3 separate regions of the Homo sapiens genome follow, and regions 1 and 2 are each linked to region 3. The links come from fine-mapping of genetic effects on gene expression. A gene starts in region 3. Each other region holds a variant in brackets. All regions are shown on one strand. Distances are between the middles of the regions.

Region 1 (8,075 bases), 23 kb after region 3:
TGAAATAGAATTTATCTCCTAGTTATTATCAGTTCAGAGTTTTAGTTTGATTTTAAAGTATTGCTAGATACACTGTATAGAGTGAGTTGCTTCTCTTAATAATTTATGGGCAAAGATAAATTTGCTTCATGTAAAACTGTTACTAAATTTATAAGTTTTAAAGGTTTTGTTTTATACAAGCATTGATTGTGAATGTCATATCAAAGATTGGCTTTCTTAAGAACACATGATTGAAACAATTTTTTTTTAACATGACGTGTTTCAATAGACTGTTCTCATAGTTCATTATAAAGTGAATACCAAATAATTCTTTGTCCATTTTGAAAGCATAATATAGGGTAATTTTCAAGTGATACAAAAAGATTCAGTTAGAATCTTGTAAACTAAACCAGTTTATTTTTATGGGATCTTCATGTAATAATTTTCTTAAATTTAGTACTCTCAACCATGATAGATAATGCCTTAACATGGATTTTAACGTTTGCAGGATTTGCTAAATTCATAAGATAGTTATTACCTTTCTTTGAAATTTGTAATGTTTTATATTCTTGTTTCATAGCCATTTGTCAGTCCACAGTGGTCATTATGGTTTTACTTTTTGATAGTTCTTACACCTTGTTGGAGAAACTACAAAAGAAAGTTGTCCTCGTCCTTCCCCTTAGCTAACATCAAAATTAAAAAGTTGAATATTAATATTAGCTAACATTAAAATGGAAGGTAATTCAGTTTTAGTGTTAGCTAACATTAACAGTCTAATAATTTAGCTTTGTAAATTCCAAGGCTAAAACCCTTTCATGGGCTTCACAGTATTTAGTCCTAATTAAATACCCTTCTTTATTCCATGACCTTATTTTATAACTTAAATTTTTTTGCAATTGTATAAATTAGTAATTCAGTCCCAGTCCTGGATCTCTGTAGTGTTTTGACATAATAAACTGATATTCTTTAAATGTGGACCTGTAAGGAGATACTATGGTGTGGTGTATTGTGCTTTTAGCCTGTTTTCCACTATTAATTAGCATTTACCAGTAAGGGTCATTTTGACTCAAGTTATTTATGTATTAATAGCCTGTGAATATTGCAGTCCTTTTTAGATTATATTGGTCTAAATATGCATTCTGCAGTGAACCTGTTAAGCTGTTCACATGTATAGACTATTGAAATACTGTACTTGTACACATCTGACTGTTGACATTTTGTACTTTTTTCTAGATCCAATATTTCACAATAAAAAACTTGTCAAAGGCTTTGTATTAGTTTTCAATGGCTGCTGTAACAAACTCCCACACACTTAGTGTCTTAATACAACAAAAATTAATTCTTTTATGGTTCTGGAGGCCAGAAGTCCAAAATCAGGTTTACTGGTCTAAAGTCAAGGTATTGGCAGGATTGCTTCTTTCTGGAGGCTGTAGGGGAAAATCTGTTTTCTTGCCTTTTCCAGCTTCTAGAGCTGCATTCCTTGCATGCTATGAGCTCATTGACCTTTATCTTCAAAGCCCAAATTGTAGCATCTCAAATCTCTCTCTGCTGCTGTCATCATACCTTCTCAGAGTGTCTCCCTCTGTTCCCTCTCATAAGGACCTTATGAGAACATTATTGGCTCCACCTGCACAAACAACGTAGTTTTTCCATCTCGAGTTCTTAACCTAGTCACATCTGCAAAGTCCCTATTGTCATATAAGGTAATGTATTCACTGGTTCCAAGGGTTCGGGCATGGACATATTGGGGGACCATTATTGAGCCTACATAGCTTCATCTACATTTTACCCCCTTTTTCCAGTATGAAACCCTGAAACAACAGATACATGAGAGAAGTTTAGGCCAAACATTAGAAACTATTTTCCTGTCTGTCCATTCAGACCACTTTAGTGCAATAGTTATTTTTCCTGGAAGAAATAAATTTGCATCTAATTGAGCAAGTATTTCAAGCTATAGTTAAGTTTTTGAAAGCTTTGGAACATGACTAGTACCATGCTAGATTGTTTGATAAGTTAAAAGTTGAAGGTGTGATTCTTTCATTTGTAGACTAGGTGGGCAGATACTGTGCTTGGGAAAAAATCTGGAACCTAACTTTGGTATTATAAAGTGTAGTAAAAGCTAACAGCTTTTAGCAAGGGCATTTCAAGACTTCAGGTGTAGTCCCTTGTTTCTCAAACGTTAGTATACATCAGAGTTACCTGGAGGGCATGATAAACACATGTTGCTGGACCTTATCCCCAGTTTTCTGATTCAGTGGGTCTGGGATGGAGCCTAAGAATTTTCAGTTCTCAGTTCTCAGGTAATGCTGCTTCTGGCCCAGAGCTCACATTTTGAGAACTATCATTTTAATATTCCCTGCATTTCCCATACAAACTATACCATTGGGTAGGTAAGTAGTAGATGGGGGGTAGTTTCTCTTTAAAACATTCTAATGAAAAAGGAAGGATGGAATTGCAACATCACTATTTTGCAACCTCTCATGGAGTTAAGGATTGGTCATCAGCAGCTACTGACAATACACAAACACATTCTTAAGTGCTTTCTGATGGAGGAATACACTGCTACCTATAAAGTTTTGCCAAAAAGAATCAAACCTAAATCTGACGAAGCATCTACCAATTAACCAAAAATAGAAAGGATGGAAGATCATGTTGAGTGACACCAAAAGGATACAGTTGGCACAGTTGTTCAATAAGTTGCAAGCAGAGGGAATCAGTGGAGGGAGAACCTATAGTATAAAAGGTACTTAATATAAACCAGTCACAATATGTGACCCTGATATGGATCTGGAATCAAGAAATTAAAAATTTTTAACATGTATGAGAACTGAAAATTTGAACACTGGTTATGTAATGATTTTAAGGAATTAAGTACTGTTAACTTTTCAGATGTGATGATGGTGTTGCAGCTATCTTTTTAGAGTCCTAGAGACACCTACTAAAATATTTATAATGAAATGGTATGATGATTGGTATTTGCTTCAAAATAGTATAGGGAGGGAGATACGAGAATATAAATGAAACAGGATTGGGTGTGAGTTGTTAATTTTTGAAACTGGGTGATAGTTATATGGTGGTTTATTATACTATATTCAACTTTTGTGTAAATTTTTTCTTAATAACAAGTAACACTACCACCATCACCCCTGCCTGCCAAGTTACGCTCAATTT[G/A]AACAATACATGCTTATTGAAAAAAAAAATGCACAGCACAAAAATCAGGAGAAAAAAGAAAAAACCACTCACAGTTCTCCCAGGTGACATATTTGTTTCTGTTTTATATGTTTTCTTGCAGCATTGTGAGTAATGGCTATGATCATGCCACAATGTAATTCTGGTTCCTGTTTCCATTCTTCCTTTCTCCCCCTACTTAACAAAAACAATTTCCACACTAAAACAACAACAGCGATTATTTGTTGTCATTTCATAGCTGTGCATGTGAGGCATTTAAGACCACTATTAAATATTTAAGACGACTTTTTAGTGTAATGTCAGGTTTCAAATCCCACTTTGCCATTTGCTAGCTAGGTGTCTTGGAGGTGTACTTAATATCTCTGAGTTTCAGTTTCCTCATCTGTGTAATTACAGAGTTATTAATGAACATTAAGGTAAAGTATTGATACACAAAGCACTTTACATAATATAATAATAGATTTATAATATGACTTTTAATCAATTAAAAATAATACATAAGGTAATATAAAGGCTAACTACCTTTTCAACTTTGGAGCATGTCCCTTGATGCAGTCGATGAAAATTCTATTAGGGTTGATTAATGGCATCATAGTTTTCAGCCATGGAAACTTTTTTTTTTAAATAAAATCTTATCAAGAGTCCCAATATATAAAACAAAAGCTGATACACTGGTTGACGTCGAGGCAAGGATTGGTATCCCTTTCATAGTAGGATCAAACATGGCAGATGCTGGTACTGTGTCCTTGATCCTTGATGCGACATAATTTAAATGTCACAGTTATTTGAATTATATCTGAGTTTTTGCTAATTTTTAATTGAGAATCTCAATGAGTGATATCTTACTGTATAGACATTTTCATTTCAGGGAGGTGAATTTCCTGTTAAATTTAATTATCAGTTGAACATGTGTTATGTGCTGCTATGCACCAGTCACTATGCTAATTACTACAAAGATGCAAAGATAAATCTTATTCCCAGGAGCTCATAATCTAGAAGAGACAGCTAGGTAAATAAATCATTGCAGAAAGTATAATAAAGTATAGATATTCACAAATGTTTACATTAGGGAGGGACTTACTAAGATGAAACCATTTTGTGTAAAGAGAAAAAATGTCCAAAGGTTCATGACTTCTAGAACATCACATTTGCCTGTTTTTTTTGTTTGTTTGTTTTGTTTCGTTTTTTAACCCCTTACCTTTCGTGATGCTTTTCAGTTTCTTTTGTTGGTTCCTTCTCTTATCCCTTACATGGAATGGTTGGAGTTGCTCAGGGCTCTTTTTTTGCTTTCTTGGTAAACTCATTAATATTACCTATAAGCCTAATGACTCCCAAACTTACAGTAACGGCCTAGACCTCTCCCCCTAATTTCCAGAATTTCTATTCAATGAAACTTGGTATCTCCATCTGGGTGTCTTACAAAGGCTCTCAAGTTTTACACGTCCAAAATGATGTACTCTTTATCTGCACTCCCCAGTCCAAACAACTACCAAGGCAGCCACTCTGCTATCTTCCCATCTCTGATAATGGCAACTCAATTTTAGTTGTTACAGGCCAAAATCCTTGATGATATTGTTGACTCTTTTTCTCCCACTTCATGGCTGTTCTTTGAAAAGTTCTGCAAGCTCTAACTTCAAGTTTGACCTTTTTTTTTTTTTTTTTTTTTTTGTCATCTCCAATCCTAACTGGTATCTCTGTTGTCTGCAGTCTGTTCTCAACAAAGAGTGATCCTATTAAAAGATGTCATGTCATGTTATCCCTCTATTCCAGTGGTTCTCAACTGAGGGTGATTTTGCTCCCCTGGGGATATTTGGCAATGTCCGGAGACATTTTTGATTATCACACTGGTGGGGTTGGGGAGAGGTTGCTACTAGCATCAAGTGAGTGGATGCCAGGGATGCTGCCAAATATTCGACAATGCACGAAACAGCCCTATGCAATAAAGAATTTGTTAACTGAAAATGTCAGTAGTCTCAGCCGAGGGTTGAGAACCCCTGCTTAGTTCATTGGCACTGCTATAACATAACACCTTAGATTCGGTAGCTTATGAACATTAGAAATTTATATCTCATGGTTGCAGAGGCTGGGAAGTCCAAGATCAAGGAATTGGTAGATTCTGTGTGTGATAAGGACCCATGCTCATAAACAACCTTCTTGCTGTGTCTTTACACGGTGGAAAGGGCAAGGCAGCTCTCTGGGGCCTCTTTTTTAAGGGCACTAATCCCATTCATTGGATCAGATTTCTCATGACATAATCATCTCCAAAAGGCCTCACTTTCTAATACCATCACCTTGGTGATTAAAATAAAACATATAAATTTGGGAGGGAATGCAAACATTCAGACCATACCAGCTGCTCTACTCAAAACTCTAAAATAGTTTTACATCTCAGCTCTTATAATGGCCTAAAAGCCCTGTAAGAAAAGTCTTTATACCACACTACAGCTATTCTCCACCTCTTTTCTTTAATTCTGTAAATATTAAGAGGAAATAAAATGTATTTAAAAGTGTTAACCCTTTTTCTTAAAATTCCTACCTATTTCCACTAGGGGGAGGGCTTCACTACTAAATAATACAGTATTTTCACTTGCCACGTTGTTACAGGAGTCACTGTAATCAGAGCAAGCATCCTCATACTCTTTGTAACAATGTTTCATTATGTACGGTAACCCATTTTCAGATGCAATTTATTTTTCACAATTCCAGTGTACATTTTTTTTTCCATTCGATAAAAGTGAGTTTTAAAATATAATTTTGTCTTTGAATGGATTGTTTTTGAATTTGCAAATACTATTTTAAGGAGTTGCTTTAAAGATTTCCATACTGGATTTTTTTGTGCACATTTCTTTCCCTCTAAATCCAGTCCTACTGATGCACTAGGTGCAACATTTATTTGGTCCCTCCTTCATCTATCTGTGAGGAAGTTCCTGCACCCAGTATACCCAGGGGTAACATAATAGGTTAAGAAATCATCAATTCTAAATCAGAAGCCTACTATCTCCAACTAAGCCATTGTCTCCTAGAGAGACATGACATGGGCACTGCATTATTGAGCTTTTCATTGTCAATGCACCCCTGGAAGCCTGGAATTCTACAGTACACAACCTGTGCAGCCATGAAACCAAGGCTGAGGCTTGGATTACCCCCTGGGCTAGAAATAGGCTTTGAATCAAGCCATCGCATGTATTAAATGCCTCCTAAATGATCGTTCTTTGTAGATGTTGCTCATTTTTGCACATTCTATGTGACATGAATTTTTCTTCAAGAGGATTATTAGGCCTCCCCTATTATTCATGGAACAATGTCTACTGGGACATCAAGGGTTCATAAGGGCTGGACCATTCACCTTCTGTTGTGACCCCCTCTTTTATCAATGCAGCTAGAAAAACTGTACAGTTTAGAAAATACCTGAAAAGTGATGACTGAAACTGAAAACGATGAGGTGGAACAGCAGTGAGAAGGTAACCTGAGAAACCTGGAAAGTAGCTGAAAGGAAGGTGGGGCACTGGGAAAAGTGGAGTTCATACAAAAACCAAACACCAGCCGGGTGTGGTGGCTCACGCCTGTAATCCTAGCACTTTGGCAGGCTGAGGCGGGTGGATCACCTGAAGTCAGGAGTTTGAGACCAGCGTGACCAACATGGAGAAACTCCATCTCTACTAAAAATACAAAATTAGCTGGACATGGTGGCACATGCTGGTAATCCCAGCTACTCGGGAGGCTGAGGCAGGAGAATCGCTTGAACCCTGGAGGCGGAGGTTTCAGTGAGCCGAGACCGCACCATTGCATTCCAGCCTGGGCAACAAGAGTGAAACTCCGTCTCAAAAAATAAAAATAAAAGAAATAAAACCAAACACCAAGCCAGCATAATTACTGCATCCAACTTTTGTTTATATTAAAATGACTTTTAATACAAGTGTGACTTAGTCTGGGGTCATGGCATAACCATTCTGTAGCTAGGTGCTTTTATAGTCAAACTAACAGTCAAAACTCATAACCAGTAAATATATATATAATATGTGTTTGTGTGTATATATATGCTAAATGAAGTCTGCATTCTTATTTTCAAATTGTCTTAAGTTCTTTTTGCAATATACATTTTATTCAAATGGAAGGTTTAAAAATGGCTGCAGGAATTTAGAGAATTTTAGAAATCATTTCCAAGTGCCTCTCAAATGGAATGAAATGTATTTAATATGGTGTTTTCCTTACATCACCTTCTGATTTCCTTCAGCATAGCAACTCTGAGCAATCAGAAGCCGCAATGCAGGCCTCTGATGTCATCAGCTGCCTGCTCCTATGGTTACCAAGATGGGCCCACAATTTCTGATCATCTATGTCAATGAAGTGGCCTGTTTCCTAGACTATAAGTATGTGAGTAGTTTTATAGAGTGGAGGGATAAAAGGGCATTTGTCCGTATTTAATTTTTCCTTTGAGTAAAGAAGTAGGAGGATTTTGTAATATGACTTATTTTTAAAACAAAATGCACGTTTTCTGTTACCTCAATAGCTAGGCTTTCCATATACTTATCTCAAAGTACTAGAGTAAGAAAAGCTTTAGGAGCATTTGAAAAGGAGTGAAAAACAAACATTTTATTTGGAAATAGGGCTGTGAATTCAGCTTGGGCATACAGATCACTTATCATAGGATATGAGATTAAAATTCATGATTGAGACAGCAAGGTACCAATAGATACCAAGGTGAGGTGAGCCACACTCAGAAACTTGCAAAACGGAGGTAGCTGAAAACTCAGGACACAATTCTTATTCCCTCACCAGAACTGAGGGGCTAAAGAGGTTGAGAGTGGTACCCAGGAAAAGATTTGGAGAGAGATGAGATGTAAGCCCTTCCTGTCTATCCAAGGAGGTAGGTTTGGGGTGTTTTCCCCACCAGAAGTAAAGATTTT
Region 2 (8,075 bases), 34 kb before region 3:
AGATGACATTTTTTTGGTGTATTAGCAACATTTATATCATTCTTTAAAACCCAGTTCAAATATATTATTTTTAAAGGCTTCCTTAAAACTGCCAGGTAATCAATCAGTCCATTATCAGATCACCTATAACACTTTTTACATCTCTCTCATAGCATTTATCATATTTTAATTGCTTTTACATATCTATTTCACCTATTAAACAGTGTACATCCAGGTGGTAGACACTATTGTTCATTTCTGTATCCTGGAATAATAGGAAGCACTAAATTACATGTCTATCACGTGTGTAAGAAAAACCTGATAGACTTCTCAAAGATATTTTGCTTTTGTTTTAAACACTAAACCAACAATCTCAATGTACTATTCCACTTTATAAATAGATGGCTGGGCTTACTTGGCTCCATAAATATTATTAGAAAGCATATTTAAAATGCAGGTTCCTAGGCAGCACACCAAACTCACTGCAGAGTTAGGGTTTGGAAATTTGTGTTTTCAAGTCCTCCAGTTGATTTTGATTAGCCAGATTTGGAACCACCATGCTAAGCTAAACATATGCTTTCCTTCTAATCTTAGTTTCTATTGTTAGCTAGCAAAGTGAATGCAGCAGTATTATATATCACATCCAAGTGGGAGTTTATTACATCAATGCAAGGCTGGTCCACTATTCAAAAATCAATCGATGTAACCACTATTTTGCTCGTAACTTGTAATATATATTTAGCATACTAATTGCCTATGAGTACACTTTCAATATGCAATAATTTAAAAAATTCTCGTTCTGTTATTTTTCTGATTATATTAATATGCACTTGACCCTTGAACAATGGAGGGGTTAGGGGCACCGACCACCCATGTAGTCAAAACTCTGCCATAATGAAATTTTTTTTTCCTTCAACTTTTAAGTTCTGGCGTACATGCGCAGGTTTGTTATATAGGTAAATGTGTGTCATGGTGGTTTGCTGCACAGATCAACCCATCACCTAGGTATTAACCCCAGCATCCATTAGGTACTCTTCCTGATGCTCTCCCTCCCCGTTGACCAACTCCCCCACCAAACAGGCTCCAGTGTATGTTGTTCCCCACTATGTGTCCATGGGTTCTGATCATTCAGCTCCCACTTATGTAACTGAGAACTATAATAAATTTTGCCCTAAAATGTAATAGCCTGCTGTTGACTGGAAGCATTTTTGTTTTATGTATTGTAAGCAATATTCTAAAAGTAAAGTTAGAAAAAAATATTAAGAAAATCCTAAGGAAGAGAAAGTATATTTACTATTCATTAACTGGATCACCATACAGGCCTTCATCCCCATTATCTTCACTGTTGAGTAGGCAGAAGGGTAGGGTTGGTCTTGCTGTCTCAGGAGTGGCAGAGGCAGAAGAAGTGGAGGGGGAGGCAGGAGAGGCTAGCACATTCTGTGTAACTTTACAGAAATACACTATAATTTGTCTTGACTTTTCTGCTTTTTCATTTCTCTAAAAATGTTTCTATGAGATACCAATTCTTCCACCATTTGTTTTAGTTTCAGTGATGTATCATAGAAGGGTCGATGTCGTAAAAGTCAAAAGCAGGCTGGGCGCAGTGGCTCAGCCACTGGGATTACAGTGGGATTACAGAATCCCAGCACTTTGGGAGGCTGAGGCAGGTGGATCACCTAAGGTCAGGATTTCGAGACCAGCCTGGCCAACATGGAGAAACCCTGTCTTTACTAAAAAAATACAAAAATTAGCCAGGCATGGTGGCGCGTGCCTGTTGTCCAGGTACTTGGGAGGCTGAGGTGGGAGAATTGCTTGAACCCAGGAGGCAGAGGTTGCAGTGAGCTGAGATCGTGCCACTGCACTCCAGCCTGAGTGACAGAGCGAGACTCCGTCTCAAAAAAAAAAAAAAAAAAAAAGTCAAAAGCAGTCTTGAATAATTAGAACCCTTCTGTCAGATTATCTAATGTCAACTTGTTTTCTGACATTACTTCTGTGTTGTCTTCTTCATCTTGTGGCACTGGTTTGAAAGCACTCTTATCCATCCCAGTCATCTTCTGTTAATTCCTCTATCATGGTGTCTACTGACTCTTTAATTTCTCCAAAATTCGTATCTTGAAATCCTTCACCTCCAACCTTTTTTGCCATATCTACCATCTTTTTCATGATTGGCTTTGTCATAAATCCTGTGAAATCATGCATATCACCTGGAGAGTTTTCTCCAACAGGAATTTATTATTTCAGACTTGATGGCTTTCATGACTTTTTCTATAAAAATGATGGCATCATCTTCAACTGTAATCCTTCCAGACCCTCATAATGTTCTCTCTGAAGTTCTCTTCCACAGCATTAAGAACCCTTTTTATAGTGTATGTAATGTGCCTTAGAAGTCCTTATGCTCCCTGATCCAGAGGGTGAATTAGACACACTGTGTTTAGGGACAAGTAGACTACTTCCATGCCTTTGGTGTTGAACTTCCATGCTCCTGGGTAGCTAGGGGCAATGCCTAGTATTAAAAAGACTTTAAAAGGCAGTCTCTTACTGGCAAATTACTTCCTGACTTCAGGGACAAAGGATTGATGGATCAATGTTTTTTCTAAATCCAGTTTAGAAAAAGGGTTCTCAAAGGGTCATTCTTGTTGTAAACCCAAAGACTGGCAGTTGGGTATATTTCCCCTTGAAGGCTCAGGGATTAGCAGCTTTATAGATAAGGGCAGTCCTGATTGTAAATCGGATTGTGTTTTCACAAAATAGTAGATTTAGCCCGTCTCCTCTTTCCTTAAATCCTGGTGCTGACTTGTCCTCCTTACTTATAAATATCCTTCGTGGCATCATGTTTTTCCAGAATAGGGTACTTCTGTCTGCATTAAAAGCCTGTTCAGGAAGATACCCTTTCTCCTCAATGATTTTCTTAATGGTATCTTGGGATTCATCTGCTGCCTCTTGGTCAGCAGAAGCTGCTTCTCCTATCTTGACATTTTTAAAGCCAAACCTCTAAAATTATCAAGCCATCCTTTGCTGGAATTAAATTCTCCAGCTTTAGATACCTCACCTTCCTTTTAAGTTGTCATATAATGACTTTCCTTTTTCTCAAATCATATTAGAGTCTACAAGTATGCCTTTCTTATAGCAATCCTGCATCCACATAAAAGCTGCATTTTCAATGAGATAAAAAGCTATTTTGCAAAAAGCACAAGGTTTTGGCACCTGCTAGAGTAGCTGCAGTGACAGATTCACAATTTCCTTTTTTTTTTAAAAAAAATTTTTTAAAGAGGATCTTACTCTGTTGCCTATGCTGGAGTACAGTGGTGCCATCATCGCTTACTACAGTCTCGAACTCCTGGGCTACAGTGATCCTCTTCTGTCAGCCTCCTGAGTAGCTGGGACCACAGGTGCACGCCAACATGCCGGGATCATTTTTTTTTTTTTTTTTTTTTTTACAATAGGCCTTCAGCTGGATTCATTTATTTTGAAATGGTGGACAACCGCAGCTGCAGACCTCAATCTATGGTACATATCAAGCAATGCAACTTTTTCTTGTCATGTCATGACTTTTGTCTGCTTCTTGGGAGCACTTCCACCATCATTAGTAGCACTTGATATGGGTCCCATGATATTATTCAAATTATTTACTGTATTGTGCTAAACATGATGGAAAATATGGAACTGCTAGAGAACACTTTTTACTGTGATACACAATTGACTGGAGAGATGAACTGCTCATTTGAAGATGATTAGCGTCACGTGGCATTTTAAGTGAATACTCCCAACCCTTGAGCTCATCACAATGGCAACAGAAGGTGGCTACAAAATTATCAGTCGTACAGTATGTACTACAGTTAATTTTATACAGTTATGATTTCATACTGCATCTTTATCTCTGTTTACATTTCTCTGGACTGTGAATGGCGTCACGTAGTCTGTGTGCAAATTGTTTTGATAAATTATAATTAAAAAAAACTTGTGTATATTTTATGGTAGTAAATGATAAAATGCACTAGTATTGACATAGTCAATTTTATGCATCTATGACATACCAACTTTTTCTTAACTTCTGATATTTCTAAGCTATAGTTTGCAAGTTTTTTCAAATTGCCAAAAATCTCCAAAAAATTTTCCAAGATACTTATTGAAAAAAAAAATCTGCCTGTAAGTAGACCCACACAGAGTTCGGACTCATGTTGTTCAAGGGTCAACTGTACCTTTTTCAAATGCTTGTCACCACTAATTTATTATATTCCCCATGATTTCACTGCGAATTTACTAGGGGTTTAAAATAAATAAATATAAACAAATACAAAATTCAGAAGAACATTTACTTCCCAAGATGCCAGAATAACAATCTAGTTGGAATCTAAATATAAAACCACCAGCAACACAAACAGCTTATAAAGTAGTGTCAACTAGCACAGTTTTAGGCACTTCACTCAGTACTTGATATATGACAATACAGCTTTACATTCAAGTGCTGAAGAAACTGAAGATTCAAGTGTACGTATGACTGCTTCTTGGAGAATTAGTCCTAGAAATGATCTGGATGTGAGGACAAGCAGAATGTGCTACGTGCTTATTCGAATATCTACCTATATCTAAATGTAACTCAACAGGATTGATACTAAAAATCCAATGCTACAAACATACTATTTCTTATTTCCTTGACCCCTATCTGAAACAACACCTTCTTCAACTTAGGGTCTCTGTTTTATCACTTCCTTTCCACATATACTTTATCTACTTTAAGGTATCCTCCCCATCTCTTCCTTGCTTCCCTAATCCCCAAAAACCTCCCTACATCTCATTTTCACATCACTGTGATCCACACACTGGTAAAGGCACAGAAAAATGTTCCTTCCATTTGTAGACATACTTGCAGATGCAGGGACTTAATTCAGGGATCAATGTTGTATAAAAAGAATCCGGAGTTTGACCAACTCACCTTCCCAGCTACAAATGGCATATCACCCAAGCATAATCTATAATGTGGTTGTGCACCAAAATAGTTCCTAGAACTTTTCTGAATGAAAAGAAAAGGAAAACAATTTTATTTTATTCACATGATAATAAAAACTGACTATACATGACTAACTTGAAACTTCAGTTAACTACTAGGCTACTACTTGCCTTATCTATAGTTGGCATTATGATCACAAGCCAGCTCCTAATAGTACTTGTTAGCATATATCCTAGCCTAGGAAAGGCTGGGGGGAAAAAAGCACTTGACAAAACAACAGTTACATTCTAAGTAGAAAATCAGTATACATATACACAAAACATTGTAAGAGCACAAGATAATGCAGTACTAATAATGCTAATTTTGTATGGTGTTCTGTAGTTCCAAAATGCTTATATATTTTCTCACTATCAGGATAAAAATTTAGGAGTAGGTATTACTTATCTCCACCTTCTGAATGAAGAAATTGAGAATGAAAGATTTACTCTCTCAAGGTTGTAGTACACCACACAGTTTATGGGTGTTTTGACATAAACTATACCAAGTAATCAGCATTTTGCCTGATTTGGTTCTGTCTTCACACCTTTTCTGGTGGTTTTGACTTCTTTTTTTTAATTCTTCTTGCATTGGGAACACA[C/T]GGAGTTGCCTTATCTTCAAAGATAAGTCTATTTGTTTCTAGACCAGTCTGCAACTAGGAAAAATGAGAGCCTCAAGTTAATGCTGTAGAAATAAAAGCTATGACTCAGATTTCAGATGTGTCATGTAAAAAGCCTGTAAAAACCAATGGTAGTATCTAACTGAAAAACATATTACAGCTGTATAACTATGTCTTGAACCAATCTATCAACGTTTGTCAAATATTTTAAATAAATACCAGTCTCTCATTTTATCTTGACCTTCTGTTATAATTTGTCCCTTCTTCAGCGTGGAACACATTATCTCCAGTATTTGTAGTTACTCCATAAATTCTATCTAACGAGTTAAATGCAATGTATCTAACCCCAAACCATTGCTTAAATATATTCTTTTCAAAAATGGCATCTACTACATTACCAGACACAAAACAGCCGAAGAGCAGAATACATTTCTTCCCTTTCTAAAAAGCCATGCACTTACTATATAAGAAAAAGGAATTGAAAACTTATATCCAAAAAAATAACAAAAAACAAAAAACACTGGAAGCTATCAGGCAAATGTTACCAAGCCCTTTTCTCTAGAAGCTGAGTAACTATACTAATTTAAAAATAACCTATCTTCATGGTAGAAATTCCACAAGCACTAAGAATTTCAAAAAAGGACTGCTCTTTTCACTAAGCCAACTTTCAACTTTCCTTTTTAAAAAAACAAAACAAAACAAAACAAAAAACCTGTCTGGAATAGTGTTTGTTTCAAATCTGCCTATATGTACCAAAACTGTCTGCAGTTTATGAGGACAATTTGGACTGCCAGGTGCCTGTCCAGATCTCATGATTTTGGCCTTTCCAGATTGGGGAAATTCATATTTTAAAGTATTTTAAGAGTTCCCCAGGAAATTATAATGGAGCTAGAACAAATATTCAGAACCACTGGATTCCATAAAAACAGATACTAAGATTATTACTAATACTTCCCACATGAGTGCAGCTTTGGGGTAAAAAATCTATTCCATGACAAAGGAATACAGGAATCTCTACCCTCAGGAAGCATCTATACACTCCAAACACACCTAACATTGCTTTATATATAGTAAATTGACTAGACACAATTCAATGAACAGGAAATTACTACTCTAGAAGACTTATGATGCCAATGAGTGTAAACAGTATACAAGAACTTTTTTTTGAGTATTTTAACTTCCAGTTTATTTATTCTTCCCAGCAGCTGTATATTTCTGTGCTACAGTTTTAAAACATTTTAAAGCACTTTCATTATTTTTTATTCTCATTTGATCACACCAACACCAAGATGCAAAATGCAGAACACTGTTTTTTTTTTTTTTTTTTGCTCTTGTTGCCCAGGATGGAATGCAGGTGGTGTGATCTCAACTCAGTGCAACTTCCACCTCCCAGGTTCAAGCGATTCTCCTGCCTCACCCTCCCAAGTAGCTAGGATTACAGGCATGCACCACCATACCCGGCCAATTTTGTATTTTTAGTAGACAGCGTTTCACCATGTTGGTCAGGCTCAAACTCCTGACCTCAAACTCCTGACCTCAGCAGACCACTCTTTAACAATGATAAAAATCCAGACTCTGAATAGTTATATAACTTGCCCAACACTAGACTTGGAACCACACATCTATCCCTCATTGTTCTTTCAGTACAATAATATTCACCATCAACTCAAAATATTTACTGGTAACATATTACCAGCAACATCTAATTTGGTCCCTATGTGTTGCCTGCTAAATGAAGGAGAAAATAGAAGTACCATAAATAATTTTAAAAATTCATTAAATAAGGAACTTACTAAATTTTGTATTTCATATATAATGTACTCAACACCACAATGCATATAATAAAGCACAACCCACAAGTTTGTTTGTTACAAGTATGGAAATGGAAACACAGTGAAGTGGCCAACCCTAAAGAGAAAATGGGCAAAGAAATTTTGTTGGTCAAAAATTAAGCCATGTGGCTATATAACTCAGAAAGCACACTGAGGGAAAACAACAACAAATCTACAAATTGATCAGAAGGTAAATATTTGAGAAGGAACTGTATCAGATTTAATACAAAATAAGTCAATAAATTTAGAGATGCACTAGAAGAAATAGACAACATAACAAAGATAACTTTTATATTCCTGTAATCACATATATGAAGTGAGCCCAAGACATTGTAGGCCTTTGGTCACAGATTGAACTGCAGAGGCTCTACTCCTTGGAATCGAGACCTGATTCTTGTGTTCTTACGAAAAAAGATACATGCAAATATCATAAAAATAAAAGACCCTGGAAGGGGCAGGGGAGTATCTGGGAGGAATTTGAGCAAATACGCTCATAACGAGAGTGTCTTCAGTTAAAAACATGAAAATTTTATTTTACTGAGTCTGTAAGTCAGACTTACTTCAGTAGTCTTGCTATATATCTCCTAGAAATGCAGTTCTGGTTGGTACATATAAACTCAATGCTTTTGTGAATCCACACTGCCTCACCTATTCTATCTGG
Region 3 (8,075 bases):
TAAATACCATACATTATAATCTTAAAATACGTGGTAGTGGGTGGGTGTGGGAAGGAGAAAGAAGACACAGAGGAACATGAAGGTATTCATTTTATTATTCTCAAAAAGTAAATCTTATATTTAATATTATAAAATGTATGATAGCCATAAAACATTTTTAAGGGAAATTAATATGGAGCTACTGTGCAGCTTGGTCGAAGGACCAAAAGTCAGAGGGACAAATCAAGAGATTAGGTCATTAATCACCAAGGTTATTGTGAAAATATTACAAGGCTGACATGAAAGACATTCTTGTGTATTTCAACACAATGCTGCCCATACCTCCATATGGAATTAATTTCATTATGCCCAATCATAGTTGCTTTCCTGCCTTTTCCACCAGTCGAAGTTTATCAATTCCAGAGCAATCACTCAATAAACGTTACCTAGAACCTAACTGAAACCTATCGCCCTACTTCCATGCTGTTCACATTTGAGATTTACATGGTCACTGCTTCCCAAAGACGGTTATTTATGAATCTACTTGTTAAAAATCTTTGCCTGTAAAGCATCTCAATGTACTTATAACTAGCTCCGTATGAGTTTATCAATGTCGAAAACAGTTGAATATAACAGTTGTTAATCTTCATAACCGTGAAATCTGAATACGAGTTGTGTTCTCAGTTCATGGTATAGTTTTAACAAGTTTTTTTTTTTTTAAATGTTGCCTACTGTTAAGATCAGCTGTTTGATAAGCTAAGTGCTTTTCCAACGCTGTTGGAAATGGCAGCCTTATTTCTGATGGGACATCTAAGCAGGACGTTTTCTTACGCACCAAGAAACCAACTAAATTTAGTCATTTTTGTTTTGAGAAACAGTAACTTCCAAAATAGACATTTTGATGTAGCAGATTGAGTTATGGTTGTTATACTTTGATTTGTGGAGGTTCCTAGATATTCTTAGTGTACCCTTGATATTTAGAATCCTATTAAAGCTGAGCTTAGCACAAAAAAAATATGCTTTCCTAATGAACAGTCTTTGGTATTTCTGTCAAGGGTACCGTATAAGTATTAACAGCTGACTATATCCCAGTGCCAATGCTCACCTAGGTGTCCTTGGCATAGTGCAGCTCAATTAAACGTTTATTTAATATTTTATTTTATGGAGACAGGGTCGCTCTGTCGCCCAGGCTGGAGAGCAGTGGCACTATCATACCTCACTTCAGCCTCAGTGATCCTCCCGCCTCAGCCTCACTAGTAGCTGGTATTACAGGCATGAGCCACGCACCCAGACTCAATTCAACATTTGTAAGAGTATTCCTTGTTCGGTCTCCAAGTGCTTAACTTTTGAGAGCCGTGAAAAGCCCTCTTCTCCCAAGTTTAATCACATCTCCTATAAAATCTCATCCATCTGCTGACACTTCCAATAGTTTTTTACTTTTTTCTTTTACTGACCTAATCCTGAATAACCTTAAATTGCTGCTTTCCTTACTTCTCCTTAACTTCCCCAGACCTCTCTGCAAACTTCTAATTCCCATTCGGCTGAAACACTGTAATACTTCTAGTCCCATTATTACAAATTCTAACAAGTCTCCAAAAGCTGAAACTGACTTCTCCAAGGTGACCAGGCTTTCTTAGCGTTTCCAACTCTTTCCCCCTAGATCCTAGAAAATAACTTTACCCTGATACTCTTCTAGTTCCTTCCCTCACCATCCTTCTTTTTTCACGTTTTTACCTACGTTTCCAATTCACCTCATCCAGCTCTACCTCCGTATTACTTCTTCTCATTCCGAACTATCTCAAGTTTCCTAAAAGCACCTACTGTTCTAGCACATACTCCAAAATTCCCGCACTGCCTTTTTCTCCTTTCTCTACTCTTGGGACAAGCAATCACAATTCCTTCGACACGCAACTAGCTCCATCTTCCCTTCTAGGAAACCTTCTCTAGCCTACCCAAGCACTGTTAATCACTCCCCTCTAGATTATTCTACTACGGTAGCACTTCCTAAACTATACTGCGCAGTAATCACTAATTACGTGTAGTTTCTCTTCAGTGTTTTTCTCCTTCAAAGCAGGGTTTCTATTCTGTTCATTTGGACCCTAACAGTATACCAGGCATCGAACATTTGCTAACTGGAGAAATAAGAGCTCCAACATTTACTTCCTATCAAAGCTTTCCAATGCCGCGGTTTTCAAAAACCTAAGCATTCGACACTCCAATTTGAGAAATACCAGTGAATACCAGTAACTAAACTGGATGGTGACATTTGATGAGGCGAAAACAATATTTAAAATCAATTCCCCCTGTCGCCTCTCCAAAAGGGCATTTCCACATTGAAGTTCCAGTAATTCTAGGTGACAGGAAGCGCGCGTTCTGGCTACGAGCATCACACAACGAAGTTAATGTGGATGGGAGTGGGAGGCACTGCAGGGATAGGAAACAGCATAAGCAACGACTAGTAAGCGCTCGAGAGACGGCGGACTACTATTCTGCAACGTCTCTTAAACACACTGGCGCGCCTCACCTGATCTGGCGAGTTTCCTAGAGGGGCCGCTGAACCCACGTGACCAAAAGAGCTACATTTTTGCAGGCCAGGGAGTGGGCAGTTATCCCAGCCGGCCCTTGGGAATGTTAGGCAACCGGGGTTGGTTGCTACGCCAAAAGGTGAATAAGGGCTGGGGAACAGGGGCGGCCAGCCCAGTTTCACTGGGAGCCAGAGGGTGCAGCTTCGACACAGCCACAGTGAATGGAAGCTTGGGGAGCGCGGGGCAATCTAGGCATTCCCGCCGACCTCCAGAATTGCGTCAGAAGCTGGACTGACAGCGCCCTGAAACGTGAGGAAACTCAAAGAGGCGCTTAGGGCCGACGTGGGGCCCACTCGCGCCAACTGCTTCTTACCGACAAGTGAGAACCAGAAGCCGCAGAGACAGACGCCGCCGCCATCTTTCAGCCTGCCCAGGGGGTCTCCGCACTTCGGGGGCGGTCTAGGTTCTCGTGCTCTTCTCCAAGACTCGGGAGCCGCCCACCAGCGGGGACCCTAGGCTGAACCCCTGATGGAAAAGGGCAAGGGTGCTGGTGCTGGGCTTGGAAACCCCTGCAACACACCCCCTCAGGGCCGCCTACGCTCACAGCTTACACAGAAAGGGCAACACGTCCTAACGGACGTCTTTCCTAGCCAATCAAAACAGCAGACGTCTTTCTGTAGTAGGAGAGAATCCGCCTCTTCCCTGGTGACGTCACAAGGTAGCGCGTAACGGGGCCCGCTGGGGCAGACAACGCCGGGGTTACAGGCCGGCTCTGCGGGGATTCTACGGAGGGTCGGGCCTCCTCCAGTAAGAAGCGTGGGCGAGTAGTGGTGTCGCCAGTGGCAACTGAAGGGAGTAATGGAGATAAAACAAAAGCGAAGGCGAAGTTAAAGCACTCCACGAGTTCCCTCGGATTAAACGCCGGAGAGAGCGTGAATTTGCCTCGGGGACGCCTCTCCAGGTGAAGTATTTACCTTTTGGCCAATAACAAATAGGATTAGGAGGGACTTAACGATTTAGTCCAATAGAAAGCAAGGGAAAAAAAGTTGCGGCAGAGAACGAGCCTTTCGCGAACATTTGCTCAATTGGATTGGGGCGCTCTCAGCCAAACCTGGGACTGGCTGTTAGAAATAGCCGCGACCGCAGACCTTTGGGCGGGGCAGGTTCAAAGCGGATTTCGCGCGCTGAGAGCTCCGGGATGTCATTGGCCGGCGACATCCTCCCTTTGTGGGCGCTTCCTGCGTCGCGGAAGTTGGGAGTTGGGAGGAGCCATCGAATGACGCGATAGCCTTCGCAGCCAATCAGGGATGGGAAAGGGAGGCCGAGAAGGAAGCGGATCCACGGCCGCACAGCTAAACAGCAACCCCCTACCCGCTTCGTCTCCCTCCGCCGCTATCGGGGCCTAAGCGGGAGCGGCTGGCACGGCGTCACTGGGTGGGCTGGGGCGGAAGTGGAGGCGGAGGGAGACGGTGGCGTCGTCCGCGGGGCCCTGGGCTCTCGCGGCGAGGCCCTGGTGGGCGCGAGGCAGGGGGAGGGGGAGGAGGAGGAGCCCGCGGCCCGGGCGGCGGCGGCTCTCGGGTTCTCCGTAGGGCCCCGCCTCGGAGCGGGCGGCGGCGGAGGAGGAGACTGAGGAGCAGGATGGCGGCCTCGGCCCTGTACGCCTGCACCAAGTGTACCCAGCGTTATCCTTTCGAGGAGCTCTCCCAGGGCCAGCAGCTCTGCAAGGTCCGTGGGCTCCGGGAGGCGGGCGGGATGGGTGTCCTCGGCCGTAGCCGGAGGGGGCCGGGTAGCCGCTGCACTGCAGCCCCTCTTCGCCGGCGCCTCAGGGGTTTGGGAGTCTGGAGCCCTCGCCTCCCCACTCGGGGACCCCTTTTTCTGGGGGCTTGAACATTAGCTGGGAACGGACCCTGAAAGGGAGGCAGAATCGTGCCCTTTTCCAGGCGGCCCAGGAGGGTGCCGGGCCCCGTCAGCGTCTGGGGGTCTCAGGAGTGGGGTTGAGTGAGGCAGCCACCTGTCTATGCCGCAGAGACCCAGGGGTGGAGATGTTTTCATCTCGGTTTTCTGCCTGGTCTGTCCTCTTCTTCCACCAGGAGGCAGGGGACGGTTTTTGCACTTTCTTGCTAGGAACCCGAAGCCGCAAAGCTGATGGCATCCTTCTTCCCTGTCCAGGAAAGCGAAGCGACTGGTTTGGGAACAGAATGCTCTGATTTGGAGCTCCTCCCATCCCATTAAAGCCTGGATGCTGTCTGTGAGCAACGGTGCAAAATAATAAGTAGTTTCACATTTAACCAATCCTTGAAATAGGCCCTGACAGCTTTCTTAATTTGTCTGTAATATACCCCCACGTCTACTAAAGACAAAGACACCTGTGCCTTCCCTAAGGAATTATATTGTGATTGGCCACTTATATGATAAAGCATCCAGTTCTTTACGTTGGGGCCAGGTTTTATAAATGTTTTAGACTTTCACTAGGTTGGGTAAACAGTTTTCTACCAGAAAAGTGAGATTTGGGACTTTCAGAAAGATACTGACTAATGTATTGTCTTATTACAGGAATGTCGGATTGCACATCCTATTGTAAAATGTACTTACTGCAGATCAGAATTTCAACAAGAGAGGTTTGTATACTGAATAGTTTTTGACTGTTAAAGACAAGTGTTGTCTTTATGGAATACTTGGGGGTTGTAATCCCATGTTTTTATGAAAGTATTTTTAAAAAATGGTTTAGCCCCAGAAATTTTAAGTTGTAAACCTTTTATACATGGTGGGAGAGAGAATGTTGCGAAAAAAACCAGTGGTGGTTAATTTACAGTTAGACTTTATATGAGAGAAGGAATAATACTACATGGAAAATGTACAGCCTTGCTAATGAAAATGCAAATGTAAACAGTTATGTTAAACTAAAAAAAAATGGTAAAGCCTTAATGGATCTGAGGAAAGGTCTGTAGTGTTACCAACTGCCTTCCAAGGTGAAAATCTAATAATTTGTTACATAGAAGAGGAGTAGTACGTAACATTTTTAACAGTTCCACTCTGAGAGTATATACAGAAAGTAGCCTCAGAAAAGAACAAATAATTTCTTCATAAATAGGTGTGGGCATTATAATGTTGGACAGTAGCCAAGTGGAAGGTTAGGTAGGCACTGGTATTGTAATGCTGTGCAGTAATAGTGTCAAGTGTGAAGATTTTGGAGCTATATAGGAAACATTAAGATGTTTTGTTTACAAAAAGTAATATGCAATAAAAATGTATAAAAACATTTGTCATAAGTTAATTTGGGTAAAACAACTCTGAAAATATCCTTGTATATTTGAAAAAAATCCGTGGTCCTTATTAAAGTTTTAAGTACAACAAATCTTTGACTCATTTTATTTTGACATTGTGCTAATTACTTTAGAAAGCTACATAAACATGATCTATATACAATTTATTTTTCAGCAAAACTAACACAATTTGTAAGAAGTGTGCTCAAAATGTGAAGCAATTTGGGACGGTAAGTATGTCTTATGTTTTCATGTCATTGTTACCAGTTAATATTTTTCATAAAGCTGGACCTTTTAAAAAAATATGTACTGCTGGCTGGGCACAGTGGCTCACGCCTGTAATCCCAGCACTTTGGGAGGCCGAGGAGGGCGGATCACAAGGTCAGGAGATGGAGACCATCCTGGCTAACACGGTGAAACCCCATGTCTACTAAAAATACAACAAAAAAAAAATGAGCCGGGTATGGTGGTGGGCGCCTGTAGTCCCAGCTACTCCAGAGGCTGAGGCAGGAGAATGGCGTGAACTCAGGAGGCGGAGTTTGCAGTGAGCTGAGATCCTGCCACTGCACTCCAGCCTGGGGGACAGAGCGAGACTGCGTCTCGAAAAAAAAAAACTACTGCTATGCTCTTAGATATTTCAACATACCATATTTTATGAAAGACATTTTCTATAGATACTTTGATGGAAAGGTGATAACATTTAAAAACAGTCAAATTATATACCTGTTTTACATGTATTGAATCCAGTGTGAAATTTGTGAAGCTGTTCTTTAGAGATTCAAATATAGCAAATTCTTGGTTATGGAGAACTTATCCATAAAGTTTGCATCATCAGACTTTAGCCCACTTCAGAACAGCCTCCTCAGAACTATTTTTATAAAACAGCGCAATTAAAGATATTTATTCACAGAAGTCATGACCCAATCCTAGTACAAATTGTCTTATATGTATACTACAATCATTATAGGTATATTATACCAATATTATTTATTATTGGTCAAAAATGCTAACTTTAACGCTCTAAACTGCCCTGAATCATCTTTTGAATATCAAAGAAAATCAAGGTATGTTTTTATAGTTTATGTTGAATATGCTTGTTCTCATTTTTTCAAAGTTGAAAACTCACAGTATATATTCCTTATATGATTTGTACCTATATGTGATGAAAAGTTAACATTTTCTAAATAAATGATATGGTCATTAAGGTAACTAGGATATTAGTAGAAGGACGTTTCCTCAAATTCTTGATTCATGAGACTTCTCTACATATGTACCTTTATTTTCGTTCTTTAAAACCTTTTTTATGTGTAGTTTTTGTATTATCTAACAGACTATGCAAATCACAAATCTATTTCTCACGATCTTAGAGTAATAGTTACATGACTAGAAATAAATACTAGTTGAATGCATAGAAATATGGTATAAAAGTTATTGCATGTGACAGGGCAACAAACTTGACAGAAAACAAATTTTTTACCTGAGTTTTCTTAATTCCAGAAATATGTCTACAACACTGGGTATATGCTATGCCGCAAATATTTAATGTTTTTAAAAGTCTCAAAATGTGTATGTTTTTCAGCCCAAGCCTTGTCAGTACTGTAACATAATTGCAGCATTTATTGGTACCAAGTGTCAGCGTTGCACAAATTCAGAAAAAAAGTATGGACCACCTCAGACCTGTGAACAGTGCAAACAGCAATGTGCTTTTGATCGGAAGGAGGAAGGAAGAAGAAAGGTATGCTTTATTTATGTTATGACATCTTCTGGAAATTAAATAAAATGCCAAACAAGTTGGAAATTATAATTAATACACTACTGAGACTGGATCTATTCTTTAGGTCCATGAAAGCAAGTAGTTAGATGAAAGTGCAGGAATAGTGAGTTTTCTCTTTGTTTGCATGATACATAGATTCATGTACTATACTTTAAAAAATATTCTATGGTGGCTATTCTGTACTAGTTGGCTATCCCACATTTGGTTCAGGAGATTTAACTAATTGCTTAAATATCTCCTTTTACTTTACCCTTTTGCTAGTTACTTGACATCACTGGTGTGAAAAAAATACCTGATGGCACATTGGCACATAAAATTCAGTTACTCTTGTGCCTTTTGATAAAGGCTCATATTTGAAACTGTTGTTTGTTTTTGTCTACCTGCAGTGACTTAATGTAATAAGTATTTGTGTTCATGTGATAATTCCTTTGCCGATCAGCATTCACACAGGCCTCCTGTTGCCTATCAATTTTAGTTGATTTGGAGAATGACTACCTCTTTGAGGGGCTTCCTCAGGTCTCCCCACAGCAATGT

The links. PIP is the estimated chance that this variant, and not a neighbour inherited with it, causes the effect.
Region 1: its variant is fine-mapped to the expression of CEP57 in nasal epithelium (TOPMed, PIP above 0.99).
Region 2: its variant is fine-mapped to the expression of CEP57 in whole blood (TOPMed, PIP 0.91).

What each region holds. Positions count from the first base shown.
Region 1 is chr11:95,762,125-95,770,199 of GRCh38, reverse strand. It overlaps FAM76B (family with sequence similarity 76 member B), which reads left to right. Exons shown (of 10, transcript NM_144664.5): 10 at 1-1,247. Among named protein-coding and RNA genes, the nearest start is that of FAM76B, 24 kb to the left of the region's middle. The variant G/A (reference allele first, on the strand shown) is at 3,151.
Region 2 is chr11:95,819,414-95,827,488 of GRCh38, reverse strand. CEP57 (centrosomal protein 57) reads right to left here. Exons shown (of 11, transcript NM_014679.5): 7 at 5,511-5,618; 8 at 4,913-4,990. Among named protein-coding and RNA genes, the nearest start is that of CEP57, 33 kb to the right of the region's middle. The variant C/T (reference allele first, on the strand shown) is at 5,565.
Region 3 is chr11:95,785,546-95,793,620 of GRCh38, reverse strand. It overlaps CEP57 (centrosomal protein 57), which reads right to left and starts at 3,123. Exons shown (of 11, transcript NM_014679.5): 1 at 2,878-3,123. The coding sequence starts at 2,922. FAM76B (family with sequence similarity 76 member B) reads left to right here and starts at 3,839. Exons shown (of 10, transcript NM_144664.5): 1 at 3,839-4,229; 2 at 5,058-5,122; 3 at 5,943-5,997; 4 at 7,347-7,502. The coding sequence starts at 4,143. RefSeq lists enhancers at 2,215-2,878, 2,842-3,311 and a silencer at 3,812-4,231.